Linked DNA regions of Homo sapiens: region 2 is linked to region 1. The links come from fine-mapping of genetic effects on gene expression. A gene starts in region 1. The other region holds a variant in brackets. All regions are shown on one strand. Distances are between the middles of the regions. Region 1 holds the start of USP44 (ubiquitin specific peptidase 44). Region 2 overlaps TMCC3 (transmembrane and coiled-coil domain family 3).

What was found. PIP is the estimated chance that this variant, and not a neighbour inherited with it, causes the effect.
Region 2: its variant is fine-mapped to the expression of USP44 in fibroblasts (GTEx, PIP 0.96).

The regions. Positions count from the first base shown.
Region 1 is chr12:95,547,887-95,556,223 of GRCh38, forward strand. It overlaps USP44 (ubiquitin specific peptidase 44), which reads right to left and starts at 3,590. Exons shown (of 6, transcript NM_032147.5): 1 at 3,386-3,590.
Region 2 is chr12:94,599,589-94,607,925 of GRCh38, forward strand. The region is part of intron 1 of TMCC3 (transmembrane and coiled-coil domain family 3); the gene reads right to left. Among named protein-coding and RNA genes, the nearest start is that of MIR7844, 32 kb to the left of the region's middle. The variant G/A (reference allele first, on the strand shown) is at 3,992.

The DNA of each region.
Region 1 (8,337 bases):
TACCAGTAGAATTTAACAACAGCTCAACCTTGCATTTGGAACAGTTACTATATAGTTCACTTTCTTTTTTCATGGGGGCGGGGTATGGTGTCTTACCTACTCTTAAATTTGAACGTATTAACAGGTTCCCCTCCGCGCACACTGACATATTTCTTATCCCCCATAATGAATTCAGCCATATGGCATTCTTTCCCATCGAAGGCCATCGGGAATGGCTTTAGGAAGCTGATTTTCAAGCTTTAAGCGGCAGCAGGTGCCGGCAGCGCGGGGACCGATCGATGGAGAGAAGGCGGGCAAGACGCCGGGAAGCGCATTCCTCCTCAACCGAGTGCCACAACCGCCCTCCCGAAGTGCCCCGGGGCTTCGAGCATCACCTCGCGGTAATCCGGGAGGGTGGAGGGATGCGGCTGGACCCGGGCGTTGCGTGCTCCACACAGCGCCCAGCCCGTGCCAGCCCCGCGCCCACCTCTCCACGACGCTCGTGCCGGGATCAGCGCGAAGCCCCTTCCAGTCCCCGAAGCCCTCGCCCGCGCCCGTTCTCCCCCAGCTCGCCCCCTCCAGCCCGCTGCGCCTTGCCGCAGCATCTCCGGGCACTCTGAGGCTGCCGCCGGGACAGGGTCGGAGCGCCGCAGAACCCACCGAAACTTCCCAGGGGGGCAATTCAAAATTCGCCGGACGCGTCGCCGCCGCGCGCCCCTCGGCTCATTCCCTTCCGCGCGCCCGCAGCCCCAGGCTCTCCCTCTCTCAGGACCCCCCAGCGCCCTGCGCGGCGAGAATAGGCCCCCAGGTGCCTCCCGGCCCCGGGGGCTGCCGTCGCACGTCCGCTCCCGCAGGGGTCCTCACTCCGCCAATCGCCGCGGCCGCGCGCCCTCGCGCACACTCACCAGCCCGAGCCGGGGCGGCCATCTTAGCGCTCACCCCGGCCCCCCGCCCCCCGGTTCGGCGGCCGCGACGACCCGGTGCGGCGGCTACGACAGCCGTGACGCGCAGCAGGCCCCGCCCCCTCCCACAGCCCCACCCCTGCGCCGGCTCTTCGCGGGCACCGAGAACCTGCCGGTGGCCGCCTTCCGCGCCTCGTGGGGGGGTCGGGGCCACGGACGGTCCCCGGCGCCGCAAGTGGGTCTGCGCGAACAACAAGCACTGCCTCCCCGGGCGGGCTTCGCACCTGTAGTGCCGTCGGGACACGGGAGGGTAAACCCAGCGTGTCCTGTGTGCCTGTGAGCCGCAGAATCATCCACGGACGTCGTTAGTCCTTCCTGGAATTTCTGCGATTTACACAACGTCGAATTGTTTGGCAGAAACGCGTGGCAAACTCCGTTATCTTTAAAACCTTCCCCAATTCACTGGCATAGAAATTCTTAAAGAAAACGTTTCCTTCTTGAAGCGACCCCTGGGTGTAACTTCAGTGGCGATGACGGCTGTGAATTGGGTTTTTTCGCACCGCAGAAGGGCGAGAGAGGTTCCAGAACGGGCACAGGAAGGGAACCGCTATCTAGAACTGCCTAACCCGAAATTGCCCATTTAAATAATGAAGTACATACCGAAAAGGAAAAGGAGGGGAAATCTGGAAAACAGGAAAGTCAAGGCTAAGGTACCTGAAAATTAACCCATTAATATTTATTGGATTCTTTGTGTTCAACTCTGAGCCAGATTGTTGTTTTTAACTGAACCTATACTCAATGACAAAGCAGTTCTACTTTGGCCACCCTGTGGAGTGTACTGAAAATTTAAAAACTCTCCAAGGAGAGCTTAAAAAGAAGACAAACATGCAAAGTTAACAATACATCAATGCAGTGCAAAATCTTGCAATATGTAAGACAAGGTATAAAATTGTTCCTATCTTTTCATCATCAGTTTTATTCTGGGGAGTATGTTTCAGTGGTATGACCTGAATAAAGAAATGAGTGCACAAAGGTATTCACAGCATATTATCCAAACACCGTAAAAGGCAAGAAGGAGCGGCACAGGATTCTAACTAACAGGAAATGGCTAATTAAGGTCTGACATAGAGGCCGGGCGCAGTGGCTCACGCCTGTAATCACAGCACTTTGGGAGGCCAAGGCGGGTGGATCACCTGAGGTCAGGAGTTCGAGAGCAGCCTGGCCAACATAGTGAAACCCTGTCTCTACTAAAAATACAAAAATTATCCGGGCCTGGTGGCGGGCACCTGTAATCCCAGCTACTCGGTAGGCTGAGACAGGACAATCGCTTGAACCCAGGAGGCGGAGGTTGTGGTGAGCCTAGATCCACAATTGCACTCAAGCCTGGGCAGCAACAAGAGCGAAACTCCGTCTCAGAAAAAAAAAAAAAAAAAAAAAATCTGATATAACACAGGAAGTTCTTATGTTAACAAAATAGATACAAAATAGCAACAATGTCTAATCAATTCATGTTTGAAAAAAATACCAAATATGTACATTAAGGTTACAACTGCATAAAATGTAGTCATGCAAATAAAGATTAAAGGGATGAATTTGCATAGTTTAATACTCATTTTGTTCTTTTTTCTATATATTTAAGTGCATAATAATTCTGATTCAATAATGACCCCAGTGCACTTCTCCCACTCAAAACATCTAACCTCTATGTTGTACTTTTGCCCACCACCTGAATTTCTCAAATGCATTAAAAGCATTACATGAGGGCATCTCTTAAGATGAAATATTTAAAATTTAAGTATTTCTGGCATGCAATATGGTTTTTCCTGTAATTCCTTGAAAGCAAAATATTAATAATAGAAAAATCAAAACTCTTGCTTTCCTATTATAATGCCATAAAACCATTCTGGAAGGTCGTTTGGGAGATAGGAAGAGTCTTAGTTGCCTCCCTCTGATCTAGTAATTGGGCGGGGTCTTTTAAGGACTAAAATGATGTGAATAAATGAAGAGAAAAAGTGAAATGGGAAGAAAAGCAAAGGCAAGCTGTGTAAGGCATAGGTGGAGAGTGCTGAATAGTGTCTTCAATAAAATGCCTTAATACAATGATGTAAGCTAGGAAGAGGTGCGGAGTGGGAAGGGAAGAGGCTGGAGACAAATTCTCATTACTAGTGTTAGTAATTAAAGAGCAGATGTTTGTAGTTTAGCTTTTTCTTCATACTTATTACTACTTATTCAACTTTGAAATTTCCTCAGCTACCATTTTATTCATGATCTTCACTATCTAGGCCTAAATTATAGCATGCTCTAGCTCATTTCCTGAGCTCCAGAACCTCTCTATTGCAATTTTATTTTTACATAGCAATCATAGTCATTCTTCTCCTTAAATTTTCCTATTTGTTTTTTAACCCGTCTCATCGAATCTAAGCTTTTTACTGTAACATTAAAAAAAAGAAAAGAAAAAAGCCTCCTTCCCTGCCCACCTTCATCAATGATGTCCCCAAACTTACCTATTAAAACCTCAAAATCAGTCTTTCCCCAGGTCGGCCTTTGGATAACTCAGAGGTCAGTCCCTGCAGGATCGCCCAGTTTCCATCAGGGCAAATGCTGATCTCCTAAGTGAAAAGTCCTGGCGGCTGCCTCCAGTGCCCCCCTGCAAATCATTACAAATCAACCTCTTTCAGGTTTGGCTTAAACTCTCACCTCCTGGAAACTGCTTTCCTGAAGTCACAAACCGGGCGTGCAGATCCCCATCCCCCACCCCCAGCAGTGCATTATTATGCAGTCACTGCTTTTGTTCCGAGTTCTGAGCCTGCTTCTATTTGCATCGTAACCTCTTTGGGGGCCGGGACTGTGCACTTGCTCCCTTTCTATACCTCTCCACAGTTCCTAGTACCGGCCAAAAACACTGCTGAAATGCCTAATGAATCAACCAGAAGTTCCTTAGCATAATATAGGAGCGTGGAAGTGATGTTTAGGGGGGCTTCCCTTGCTTCCCTGATCCCCAGATGGAGAGAAATGGCAATTTGCCCTTCCAAGGTAAGCAGTTTCCTAAACCAGATAAAATTTTAACGATTCTGAAACCTAATGGATGTGTAACTACTCAATTCTGAGTTACTACACAAACAGTTTTGCCCTTTGTATCCTGAGAGAAAAGTACGAATGAATTAAAAGAAGACAAAACATTGTAAATTTCATAAACCTCAGAGTGGCTTTTTATGCTTTATGTCGATTTTTAGAATTTCCTAGTCCAGTCTTTCATGAATCGAAGAATATTTCAGGAATCATAATTGCAGACTAAAGAATTTATGAGCTTGTGAAATTTTAGGAATCACTTTTAAGACTTTTCAGAGTTTTACAGACAATGCTCTTACCTAATAACTAATATTCGCTTAACATTTTTTTCAACACCTAAATGCCTGGCACCATGCTAAGCATTGAGATATTCATAGCATTCATTTCAATGGTTATGAGGAGATGAAGGATTGAGCAGAGGAAGTGGGTAAAGAAACGCTAAATAACTCAGCCATAAACTTTTGATTAAGGTGTAGCAACACACTTCAGTTGAACTTTTTAAATGAGAGGAACCCAAACGACCTTAAATTTCTGGCAAATATGAAAGAAAGGAGTTGAGAAAAAAGGAGTATGGAAAAAAGAGCAGCAGATGTAAGCTATGGCCTTAGTGGAGGAAAGTGAGTAGAAGGGGCTTTAGAATTCGCCTTTTTTCTTTAATTCTAAGAATGAGGTTGGTAGCAGGTAAGGAAGGTAAATGCCAGCTGAGTAGATGGTACCAAAGTTGATTTGTTTTTAAAAGACCATTGTTTATTTGGTGGTCTGTCAGGGAAACTTGTACCTTGCAGGTGAATTTCCAACATAGGCCTACTGGAAACTGAAACCCTGAGCCCCAGGGTTTAGGTATAAATGGAAGCAAAATTGTGAAGTGAGTCCATTTCTCCCCCTTTTTAAACATAAACATCCACTCCACCTCCACCCTATACTCAGTTTTTCTTTTCTTTTCTTTTCTTTTTTTTTTTTTTTTTGAGACAGAGTCTCGCTCTGTCACCCAGGTTGGAGTGCCGTGGCGTGATCTCGGCTCACTGCAACCTCCGCCTCCCGGGTTCAAGCAGTTCCCCTGCCTCAGCCTCCTGAGTACCTGGGATTACAGGTATGCACCACCACGCCTGGTTAATTTTTGTATTTTTAGTAGAGACGGGGTTTCACCATGTTGGTCAGGCTGGTCTCCAACTCCTGACCTCGTGATCTGCCCGCCTCGGCCTCCCCAGGTGCTGGGATTACAGGCGTGAGCCACCACGCCTGGCCCACTCTATACTCACTTTTACAGGGATCCTCAGGATGCTGTGTCCAGGGCTTTACTGCAGTCTGTCTCTCTTCCTTCCCATCAAAACTCTTCCCATTTTGTTCAGGACAGGTACACCAACCTTTCATTCTCTCTTTTTATTTATTTTTAAAATGGAGACAGGGTTTTGTCACCAGGCTGGAGTGCAGTAGCGTGATCATGGCTCACTGCAGCCTTGACCTCTCAGGCTCAAGCAATCTTCCCACCTCAGCTTCCTGTGTAACTGGGACCACAGGCATGCGACACAACTTCTGCTAATTGATTTTTTGTAGAGATGTGGGGGTGGAGGGGGGTTCTCCCTATGCTACCCAGGCTGGTCTCAAACTCCTGGCCTCAAGCAATCCTTGTGCCCCGGCCTCCCAAAGTGCTGGGGTTACGAGCATGAGCCACCATGCCTGGCCCCAACCTGTCATTATCTAAGGAGCTCAGTTATGAAGTAAAGTTATCTACTTTGTATTATTAGTGTTTAGTATTTTTTTTTCCATTTCTCTCTCAGACTGTTCTACCTCCTGTAGACACCCAGAGTTTGGAATTTCTAAAATGACATTTTAAACATTGTGACAGATCAGTGGGATAGATATTTTGCTAAGCCAAGGTACTTCCTTTCCAAGGATAAGCTATGGGAGGTGATGACAGCAGAATACACACACACACACACACACACAATACACGCAGACACACATATATATACTCATATGCACATATATAATTAGAACTCATTTAGCTATAATAACAATTTGTCCATCTAGTTATTTGCAATCCTTTCAGGATTTTTAAAATTTCTATCTCATTTGTAGAGTTTGGAAAATAGTATCTGTCCTATCTTCTTCACAATAATGTTTTAAGGACCAAATGAGGTTTTGTCCATGGAACCTGCCTAAACTGTAAGGAGAAAAGTCAGTGTGTTTATCATTATTTCTCTCTTAGGTTTACTATTACCCTGTAAAGTTCTTTGAAGTCAGAAACAGACTTTTGTTCATATTTACAACCCCTATAGCAATTAATACAGAACCTCACTCAGGATAGATAAGCAGTATTCCCTTAAATCAAGTTTTACTTCTGTACTAAAGTAATAGTCAATTCAAGGACAAGTGCTATAAAGGTTAAAATTAATTCTATTACTCTGAGAAACATGGCAATACTATTTTAGTCTTCCTCTCTCATAGTAGGGAGGGAAAGGATCTGGAAAGGCAGAGGGAGAGAGGGGGAGAAAAGAAAAGGCACTACAGGTGGAAATTTCAACTCTTAAAGTTTTAGTAAACCATGCCAAAAAGATACTAGTAACTTTTCATGAGGAAGAGATTATTGGGGTACCCAAGTTTTGTTTTTATACTCTATACATGTTTTTAAACCCATTTCTTTTTTTTAAAAAAAAATAATAGAATGAGGAAAGTGTAGATGGATAACTGTAGCTATTTGTATAATTATTTACATCTTGCCAAACCATTTGGAAATTGAAATCCTGCAGTGTCGCTCCTGGGTTGTAAAAGATAAGAAAAGTAAATAGAAGGCCCCCTTAATACAACGTGATATTGCATCATTTAAAAGAAACCACAAACTGTCTATTCAGGATGTATGCATACAATAAAAAGAGCTAACAATTCTTCATGTGTAAGAGCTAGGATGATCAACCTGCTTTTCTCTGCCATCTTAAGGTTGCTTCTTTTTAGGCCAAGGTACCTCGTGGTAGCAATCATTGATTTAGTCATCTGTAAATAGTGTTTGTAAGCCTCTTTTCCTTAGCTAACCAGTGATTAACTCCTAGAAAAACCACATTTTTTTTCCTGCCACCCAGGAGTGCAGTGGCGTGATCTCAGCTCACTGCAGCCTTGACCTACCAGGCTCAAGCAATCCTCACACCTGTGCCTCCCAAGTAGCTGGGACTACAGGCACATGCCACTACACCCAGCTAATTTTTGTATTTTTTGTAGAGATGGGGTTTCACTATGTTGTCCAGGCTGGTCTTGGACTCTTGAGCTCAAATGATCCACCCACCTGGACTTCCCAAAGTGCTGGGATTACAGGTGTGAGCCACTGCACCCAGCCTTGAAAACCACATTTCTGAGGGAAACTCTTTGGGGGAAGGGAGGTTGTGTGTAAGTTAGATAGTCCCTATCTATTTCATTTTATTTTTGGTTTTGAAATTAGTGTTTAAAGAATTAAGCATAATGAATACTTGATATTAATTTCTTGGATGTTTTTTGAGATGGAGTCTCACTCTTGTCACCCAGGCTGGAGTGCAATGACACAATCTCGGCTCACTGCAACCTTCGCCTCCTGGGTTCACGTGATTCTCCTGCCTCAGCCTCCTGAGTAGCTGAGATTACAGGCACCTGCCACCACACCCGGCTAATTTTTTTATTTTTAGTAGAGACGGGGTTTCACCATGTTGGCCAGACTGGTCGCAAACTCCTGACCTCAGGTGATTCACCCGCCTCGGCCTCCCAAAGTGCTGGAATTATAGGTGTGAGCCACTGTGTCTGGTCCTTGGATTTTTTTAAATGTCCTAAATATGCGGCTCCTAATCTTTAGAAAAATAATGAAGGATGAGCCAAGCATTGTAGGGGGGGGAAAAAAAGCTTGAAATATGACATGTAATGGGATGTTTTTCACAAGTATAAAGTTTTATTTTGTCTGTTTGGATGAAAACTCCAAAATGCCACAGGAATGATCACAGAAGGAAATTTATATAAATTTACCATTAAATGCCTATGAAATAATCTCTTCTTAAAAATCAATGGTAGTAATAAAGGATGACTTAAACATTTATTTGCTTATGCCCATAACATTGTATTAAATTTAAGATAAAAGAGCCGGGTGCAGTGGCTCACGCCTGTAATCCCAGCACTTTGGGAGGCTGAGGAAGGTGGATCACCTGAGGTCAGGAGTTCCAGACAAGCCTGGCCAACCTGGCGAAACACCGTCTCTACTAAAAATACAAAAATTAGCTGGGTGTGGTGGTGGGTGCTTGTAATCCCAGCTACTCGGAAGGCTGAGACAGGAAAATCACTTGAACCTGGGAGGCAGAGGTTGCAGTGAGCCGAGATCATGCTACTGTACTCCAGCCTGGGCGACAAGAGCAAAACTCTGTCTCAAAAAAAAAAA
Region 2 (8,337 bases), 950 kb before region 1:
TAAGATACTGCTTTACAGAGTCTTACCTAGTATTTAATTTGACTTGTATAAAGGTACTTTATGTAAAATAACTAAACTTTACATTCTCAACAGCCAGCTCTTAATGCTTTTATAATTGTCATGAGTTTTCTATATTGCTATTTTCAGTAAAACTAGGACTCTGAAGTAAGACCCTAAAGACAGATGTCTAACGTTTTCCACCTCCAAGTCTTTAAGCAAAACAAGAGAAAATCGTATTAGAAAGACATATCTAATGATTATAACTTGCTACTTCCTCTATAAAACCTCCTTAGCCTACTTTTTGAGAGTATTATGGCATGACCAGGCACAGTGGCATGTGCCTGTAGCCCCAGCTACGCAGGAAGCTGAGCCAGGAGGATCGTTTGAGCCCAAGAGTTGGAGGCCAGCCTGGGTAACACAGCAAGACCCCATCTCTAAAAAAAGGAGTGGTGGTGGGGGAAGAGAGAGAGAGGGAGAGAGAGAAAATGAATGAATATGAATTATGCTTGGAAGCTTGTTTTTACAGATATTATGTTGGGGGTTTGGGGACTGGGTTATACTTAATTCCATGACCTTAGGGGTAAACAGCATAATTATTTTATTGATGTTCTCTCTCCTTCATCTCTTCTTTAAAACTGTCACCAAATTCTGGTTTTTTTTTTTTTTTTTTTTTGGCTTGGTGGTTTCTCTCCAGATTGACCCTTCCTTGCTATCCTCAGGGCCATCTATCTTAATCCACATCCTCATTTCCTATCTCACCTATAGCAAGGGCAACAGTTTAACTGGGTTTCCTTGTTTTCAGTGTTCTATTCCTTCCATCTAGTCTATAGGAAGTCATTACACTGATCTTCTAAACTCCCACTTCCATCACACTAAAACACTGCTTAAGATGTTCAACGATTCTTCCTTTAATAAAGAGATTGGATTCCTCCCCTTGCTGGTACTTAAGCCCTGAGTAATTTTTCCTATTCAACTTCCAATGTCTTCCTCCTTCCTTCACCATCCACCAAGTGGATCTCAGCACTGTGGTACATGAACATATTTCTGGACTTTCTGTTTCACCTCAACACTTACACCATTCCCTTCCGGACACAGCATCTCAAGGCCTCTGTCATATCCAAATCCTACCATTCCTTCAAGATCTCTTCCATGAGGCCTTTCCAAAGGACTTCTTCTCCTTCCTGATCCATTTTGGCTCTTATATATACTGTTAGGTGGGTTCCTCTTTGTTTTATCATCTTTGCTGGGTTTTTTACTAGTTACTGAAAGCATTCACTTTCTCAGGTACCATACAACACTCAGCACAGAACGCGCAGTATCACTGAGCAGCAAATACCTATATACGAACCCAATTTCTCTATGTCATAACCCAGTATATTACAAATTCTGAATGAGACATCCAAGAAAGAAATACATGTTTACCAATATATACATACTTATGTATGTGCACATATACATGCACACACCTAATTAAAACAAAAGTTTTGTAAAATACTACTTATCTTTACTACACACAATGTAACTGTATTTACAGCTACCTAATTTTCTGGACAACTGGATATTAGAAATTATAATTACCTTTGTTAATTTTATTATGTAGAAAAAGTCCTTGTTTGCAGATACATATTAGAAACAAAGTGCCCTGGCCGGGCGCGGTGGCTCATGACTGTAATCCCAACACTTTGGGAGGCTGAGGCGGGCAGATCACTTGAGGCCAGGCTTTCGAGACCAGGCTGGCCAACATGGTGAAAGCCCATCTCTACCAAAAATACAAAAATTAGCTGGGCATGATGGTAGATGCCTGTAATCCCAGCTACTCAGGGGATTGCTGAGGCATGAGAATCACTTGAACCTGGGAGGCGGAGATTGCAGTGACCCGAGATCATGCCATTACACTCACTACACTCCAGCCTGGGCAACAGAGTGAGGCTGTGTCTCAAAAAACAAAAAAGAAGGCTGGGCGCAGTGACTCATTCCTGTAATCCCAACATTGTGGGGGGGCGAGGTGGGTGGATCACATGAGGTCAGGAGTTTGAGACCAGCCTGGCCAACCCTATCTCTACTAAAAAATTGGCTGAGCATGGTGGTGCACACCTGTAATGCCAGCTAATTGGGGAGGTTGAGACAGGAGAATTGCTTGAACCCGGGAGGCAGAGGTTGCAGTGAACCAAGATTATGCCACTGCACTCCAGCCTGGGTGACAGAGTGAGACCTGGTCTCAAAAAAAAAAAAAAAAAAAAAAAAAAAAGAGAAGAAAAAAGAAAGGGACCTGGTGTCTGTATATCACTTACTTTTAACAGGTTACAAACACAAACAAAGAAAATAAGAACATTTTAAATTGTTGAATCTGGGTAAGGTAGATGAGTATTTGCTGTGATGTTCCTTCTGCTTTTCCATATAAGAATATAAAGTGATAGTTGTTACTCATCAAATTTATTTCATGACCATAATCCTGTTTGAAAAACAGTGTGTTATAATTAGAAAAAAGACAAGCCACTTGTCCCTGTGTTTGTTAATCATACTTAAGGAAGGCTCTAACATTCTGAAGAACGTTCTGTGGTTACTTCCTGGCCTATAAAGGATTTAATGTTCCATTGCTGAGTCTACTAATCTCTCCTTCAAAATCCTTTCTACAAAACTTCTGTGAATCATTACGACCTTAGCAGAAAGGTATAAGATTAGGGATTGGTTTTTTAGTTGCAGAGATCACAGACTCAGAACTTACCCTAAGACCTCGCATACTGAGAACAATCCTTGTGGTTTTCACAGGGCTTTAAAATAACTAAATCTAGGAACATCAAAAGTTTAAGACAGTGCGCTAAAGCTGAAAGTACCATAGCAAACATGTGCACTGGTTACATTTTCCCCTTCCTTTTCCTTTAAGAATAGGTTTTAATAAAAGACGAAGTTCCATGAACGGTCAGTAACATCTCATTTAATTGACACTAAGGGAAGTATTCTAGATGAGTGAATGAAACTTGTAGATAACTGAAACTCCAAGTCTTGCTAATTAGAGATTTCTAGATTTTCTTCTTTCTTTTAATTTCTTTTAGAGACAAGGTCTTGCTCTGTTGCCCAGGCTGGCTTCCAACTCCGGGGCTCCAGTGATCTTCCTCAGCATCCCAAGTAACCGAGGCTACAGGAGTGCACCATCATGCCCAGGTGGATTTCTAAATTTCCAAGATTGTTTTCCTGTTGACTATGGACATCCACATAATCAAGTTTGAATTGTGACACAGCAACAGTGACCTCAAGAAGACAACTGAACTAGATCACTCGGGGGACCTGGGATCCAATTAACCTTAGGTCCTCGTAAAGAAGCAAGGTGGCTGAACTCTGCAAACTCTAAGGGCCTTGCAGCTCTCATATGCAGCAGTTCTGTTACTATTAGGTCTGTAAGGCTGGCATCCTGCACGCAAAATGCCAATAGCCTTGTTCATAAAATTATTAGCACAGACCAACTGACACAAACTGAGTATTACTCTTTATAATGAATCTTATTTTTTATTTTTTTGAGACAGAGTCTTGCTCTGTCACCCAGGCTGGAGTGCAGTGGCGCAATCTCGGTTCACCGCAACCTCTGCCTCCCAGGCTCAAACAATTCTCATGCCTCAGCTTCCCGAGTACCTGGGATTACAGACGTGCACCACCACGCCTGGCTAATTTTTTTATTTTTAGTAGAGATGGGGTTTTGCCATCTTGTATTTTAGTACAGACGGGGTTTTGCCATCTTGGCCAGGGTGGTCTTGAACTCCTGGCCTCATGTGATCTGCCTGCCTTGGTCTCCCAAAATGCTGGTATTATGGGCATGAGCCATCCCTTTATAATGAATCTTATTTACCAAAATAAAATTTAATAAGCAACAAGTCGTTAAAAACCATATGCAACAAAAGGAATGAAAAATTGTTCAACACACAACCCAGACAAATCTCACGTGTGTAATACTTAATGAAAGAAGCCACACACAAAAATGTGATGGTGTATGATTAGC[G/A]TGCTGCGGAGGTGAGAAGAGTGGTTACCCTTTGCGGGGAAGTAGGGGTACGGAGAATGATTCACCAGTAGGTGGCACCAGGGAGCACTGGGGTGCTAACAACATTGATCCAGGTGGCAGTCACTCAGGACATACACATAGGTAAAAATTATCCAACTGTACATTTAAGATGTATACACTTTACTGTAAGTGAAACCTCAAAAAAGTAATAAGATGCAAAAAAACTTAGATAACAAAAATGCAGGAGCTGTCAAAACTATTATCTTTATAGTACCTGTAACATTACAAATGCACAATGAATAAATGTTAACATACAGTATTGCTCAATTCTAGCAAGAAAAAAAACCACTTAAATTTCATTAGCATGTCAACCTGTAATGCATTTTGTCAGCTCTTTAACATTTTTAAAGTTTCCCAAACTTTCATGACACTGTCTCATAAATATTTGTTTTTAGAATACTAAAGAGCCAATGAAAAAGAGCAGAAATCCACACGTGTACTACTAGCAAGGCATTAATATCTGTGGTTTAACTGAATACATCAGATTTAGACATAAAAATATGCAATTTAGAATTCTGCAAAATGCAGCAAAATCCTAATACCATGTTGATCCAGATTGCTAATGCCTTGTTTTATTACATAATAGTCATTTAGAAAGCCAATGTTTCTCAATGAGGCTGAATTTAACTAAAAGCACACAAAGTACAATTAGGGCTTGCTTACTTAGACCAAATTGTTTTTATGATAGCTAATGGAACTGATTAATTTAGGTTGCAAACCAAGCCCCCTAAAATACAGAATTGCTACTTGAAAATGTTTTTCTGGGCATCTTTTGTGAACTAAGTCCTGTGCTGAAAGAACTGGAGTCAGAGAAATATGATAAGCTCTGCCCTAAGAGGTCACTCTTGGGGCAGGGAGGCGTACAGAATTAAAAAATGTAACAAGGCCAGGCACAGTGGCTCACTCCTGTAATCCCAGCACTCTGGGGACCGAGGCAGGAGGATTACTTGAACCCAGCAGTTTGAGACCAGCTAGGGCACAATAGTGAGACCCCATCTCTACCAAAAAAAAAAAAAAAAAATGCTGCGTGTGGTAGTGTCTGTGGTCCCAGCTACTTGAGAGGCTGAGGTGGGAGGATTTCTTGAGCCTAAGAGGTCAAGTCTGCAGTGGGCCATGATTGTGCCATTGCACTTCAGCCTAAGTGACAGAGTGAGACTTCATCTCAAAAAAAAAAAAAAAAAAAAAGAAGTAATAAGTACTATAGGAACCAAGGGGAGGAAATAAGCAGGGGGCTTCAATGAGAAGCTTCTGAGAAGGTGATAATTGACTTAGAGGCAGCTCAAAAATCTGCTGAGAGCCTAGCAAGGAGCACATTGTATCTGCAGAAGGAAAAACTAGAATATGTATTTAGGAAACTAAAAGTTGGAGTGTCTAAAATTGAGAATGGCTAAATGGGTCATTCTAAATCAAGGCATGATTGAGGGCTGGGGTGAAAAAGAGGTGCATGGCAAGCATTCCTAAAGGGAGGCGGCACAAGGCTCAGAAGAACACCGACAACCTGCAACAGGCTCTGCAAACCATGCTAGGCTAGACACCTGACCATGCAGACAAGGGGAAGCCAGGAATTTTAAAGCAGGTGGTGTTTTTATAATCATGAAAATAAAATACGGAGACATAGAGAATTTGGAATATCAAAAAGAAAAGGAGGCTTATCTTAAATACAGATACTGTTTAGGTTCTTATTAATTTTTTAAAAATACAGCACTGTGACTATACTACACAGAGGGATTTTGGATTTAGTTCAGGTCACATAAGAATGGTTCATTCATGAATCTGTGTAATTGGTCATGACATGCGTATACACTTGTTGCATACCAACATTAAGTAAGCGTCTATCTGGGATGCTGGGATCATGTAATTTGGACTTTTCCTTTTTTTAAGCATCATTTGAAGCTAAGGATAGCTGAGTTCTTACCTAAAAGAACACTGTCCATCACATATGGAAAATCAGGCATTTTGCCTCATAAATACACAATTCATAATTTATTCCATCTCCACTCATCTCTCTTCTACAGGCTCAATACTATTCAAACTCCAATTATTATCACAGCCTTGGTACTTTCCATCGGGGGCTAGATAAAGAAGAGCAAAGTTTTCACCTACGATGAACAAAATGGCAGGACTTAAAGATGACTTTCCTGAAGAGTGCAATGCCTTCTGTCTTTTATTTATGGACTGAAAAGAGAAATCCCTCAATGTACACGGCAAATCACATTCCCCTCACTCTAAGCCATACTTACGGAAGACATCCCAGATTCTCCTGAATGCAGGAAAGTACCACGGTTACACCAATCTACTCCGTCAAACCAGGTACTAACTATGACTAAAATTATATGTGGAAAAAAAAAATCCAAATGAGATTAGTAACAGAAAACAAACAAACAAACAAAAAAACAAGTATGTGTGTAGGGGGGTGGATAGAAGGCAGTCTTGAAAGCGTCAATGCTAGACGCTTTTTTTCTCTTTACTGGGAATTGCAATCAACCAAACCATGGGTCTGTACCTGACCTAGAGCCTTTAACAATGCAACAAGACTGTGAGAACTCTCACTCAGGGACACCTGCTCTTAGCCTATTATGGAACTACTGCCTGTGTGCAGAAGTATCATTTGGAAACATGAATTTTATGCTCAAAGGGTAAAATGCCCAAGAGGCTTTACTCATGCCAAGTTCCCTAAGAACCATGGGGCTTCTTTTTGCCTTGGGAAAGGAGGTGAACTTTTTTCTTATTCTTTTTTTTTTTTTTTTGAGACAATCTCGCTCTGTCACCCAGGCTGGAGTGCAGTGGGGTGATCTCAGCTCACTGTAACCTCTGCCTCCCAGGTTCAAGTGATTCTCCTGTCTCAGCCTCCTGAGTATGTGGGACTACAGGTGTACACCACCATGCCTGGCTAATTTTTGTATTTTTAGTAGAGATGGGTATCGGGGGAACCAGCCCCAATATTTCAAAGTAGGTTCTATTTTCCCTAAGTGTCAGCCGGTCTGAGAAATAAAGAGAAAGAGTACAAAGAGAGGAATTTTACAGCTGGGCCTCTGGGGGTGACATCACATATTGGTAGGACCGTGATGACCCCGAGCTGCAAAACCAGCAAGTTTTTATTAGGGATTTTAAAAGGGGAGGGGGTGTACGAACAGGGCGTAGGTCACAAAGATCACATGCTTCAAAGGGCAATAAAGATCACAAGACAAAGGCAAAATTAGAATTACTGATGAGGGTCTATGTCCTGCTGTGCACGTACTGTCTTGATAAACATCTTAACAGGAAACAGGTGAGAGCAGAGAATTGGTCTGACCAAAATTTACCAGGCTGGAATTTCCCAATCCTAGTAAGCCTGAGGGTACTGCAGGAGACCAAGGTGTATTTCAGTCCTTATCTAAATTGCATAAGACAGACACTCCCAGAGTGGCCGTTTACAGACCTCCCCCCAGGAATGCATTCCTTCCGCACGGTATTCCTTGCTGGGAAAATAATTCAGCGATACCCTCTTACTTGCACATCCATTTATAGGCTCTCTGCAAGAAGAAAACTATGGCTCTATTCTGCCTGACCCCGCAGGCAGTCAGAACTTATGGTTATCTTCCCTTATTCCCTGAAAATCACTGTTATTCTGTTCTTTGTCAAGGTGCACTGATTTCATATTGTTCAAACACACGTTTTACAATCTATTGTACAATAGTGGTCCTGAGGTGACATACATTCTCAGCTTATGAAGATAACGGGATTAAGAGATTAAAGACAGGCATAAGAAATTACAAGAGTATTATTACAGAAGTGATAAATGTCCATGAAACCCTCACAATTTATGTTCAGAGATTGCAGTAAAGACAGGCATAAGAAATTATAAAAGTATTAATTTTGGGAACTTATAAATGTCCATGAAATCTTCACAATTTATGTTCTGCCCATGGTTCCAGGCGGTCTCTCCATTCGGGGTCCCTGACTTCCCGCAACAGATGGGGTTTCACCATGTTGGCCAGGCTGGTCTTGAACTGCTGACCTCAAGTGATCTTCCCACCTCAGCCTCCCAAAGTGCTGGGATTACAGGCATGAGCCACCGTGCCCAGCCTGAAAGAAGGTGAACTTAATTAGATGCCAAGGATTGCTAACTACATAACAGTATTTACAATGTGGTACCCTTGATTAATCTGACTCAGTCCACCTACCTTAATCAGCATTTCGAAATGTTAGGGGACCATCTGTTCATGAACTGAGAACATTATGAAGTCTCTCATTCAACTCAGGATATCACCCTGAACTTGATGAACTAAAATTTATTTGATTTCTAT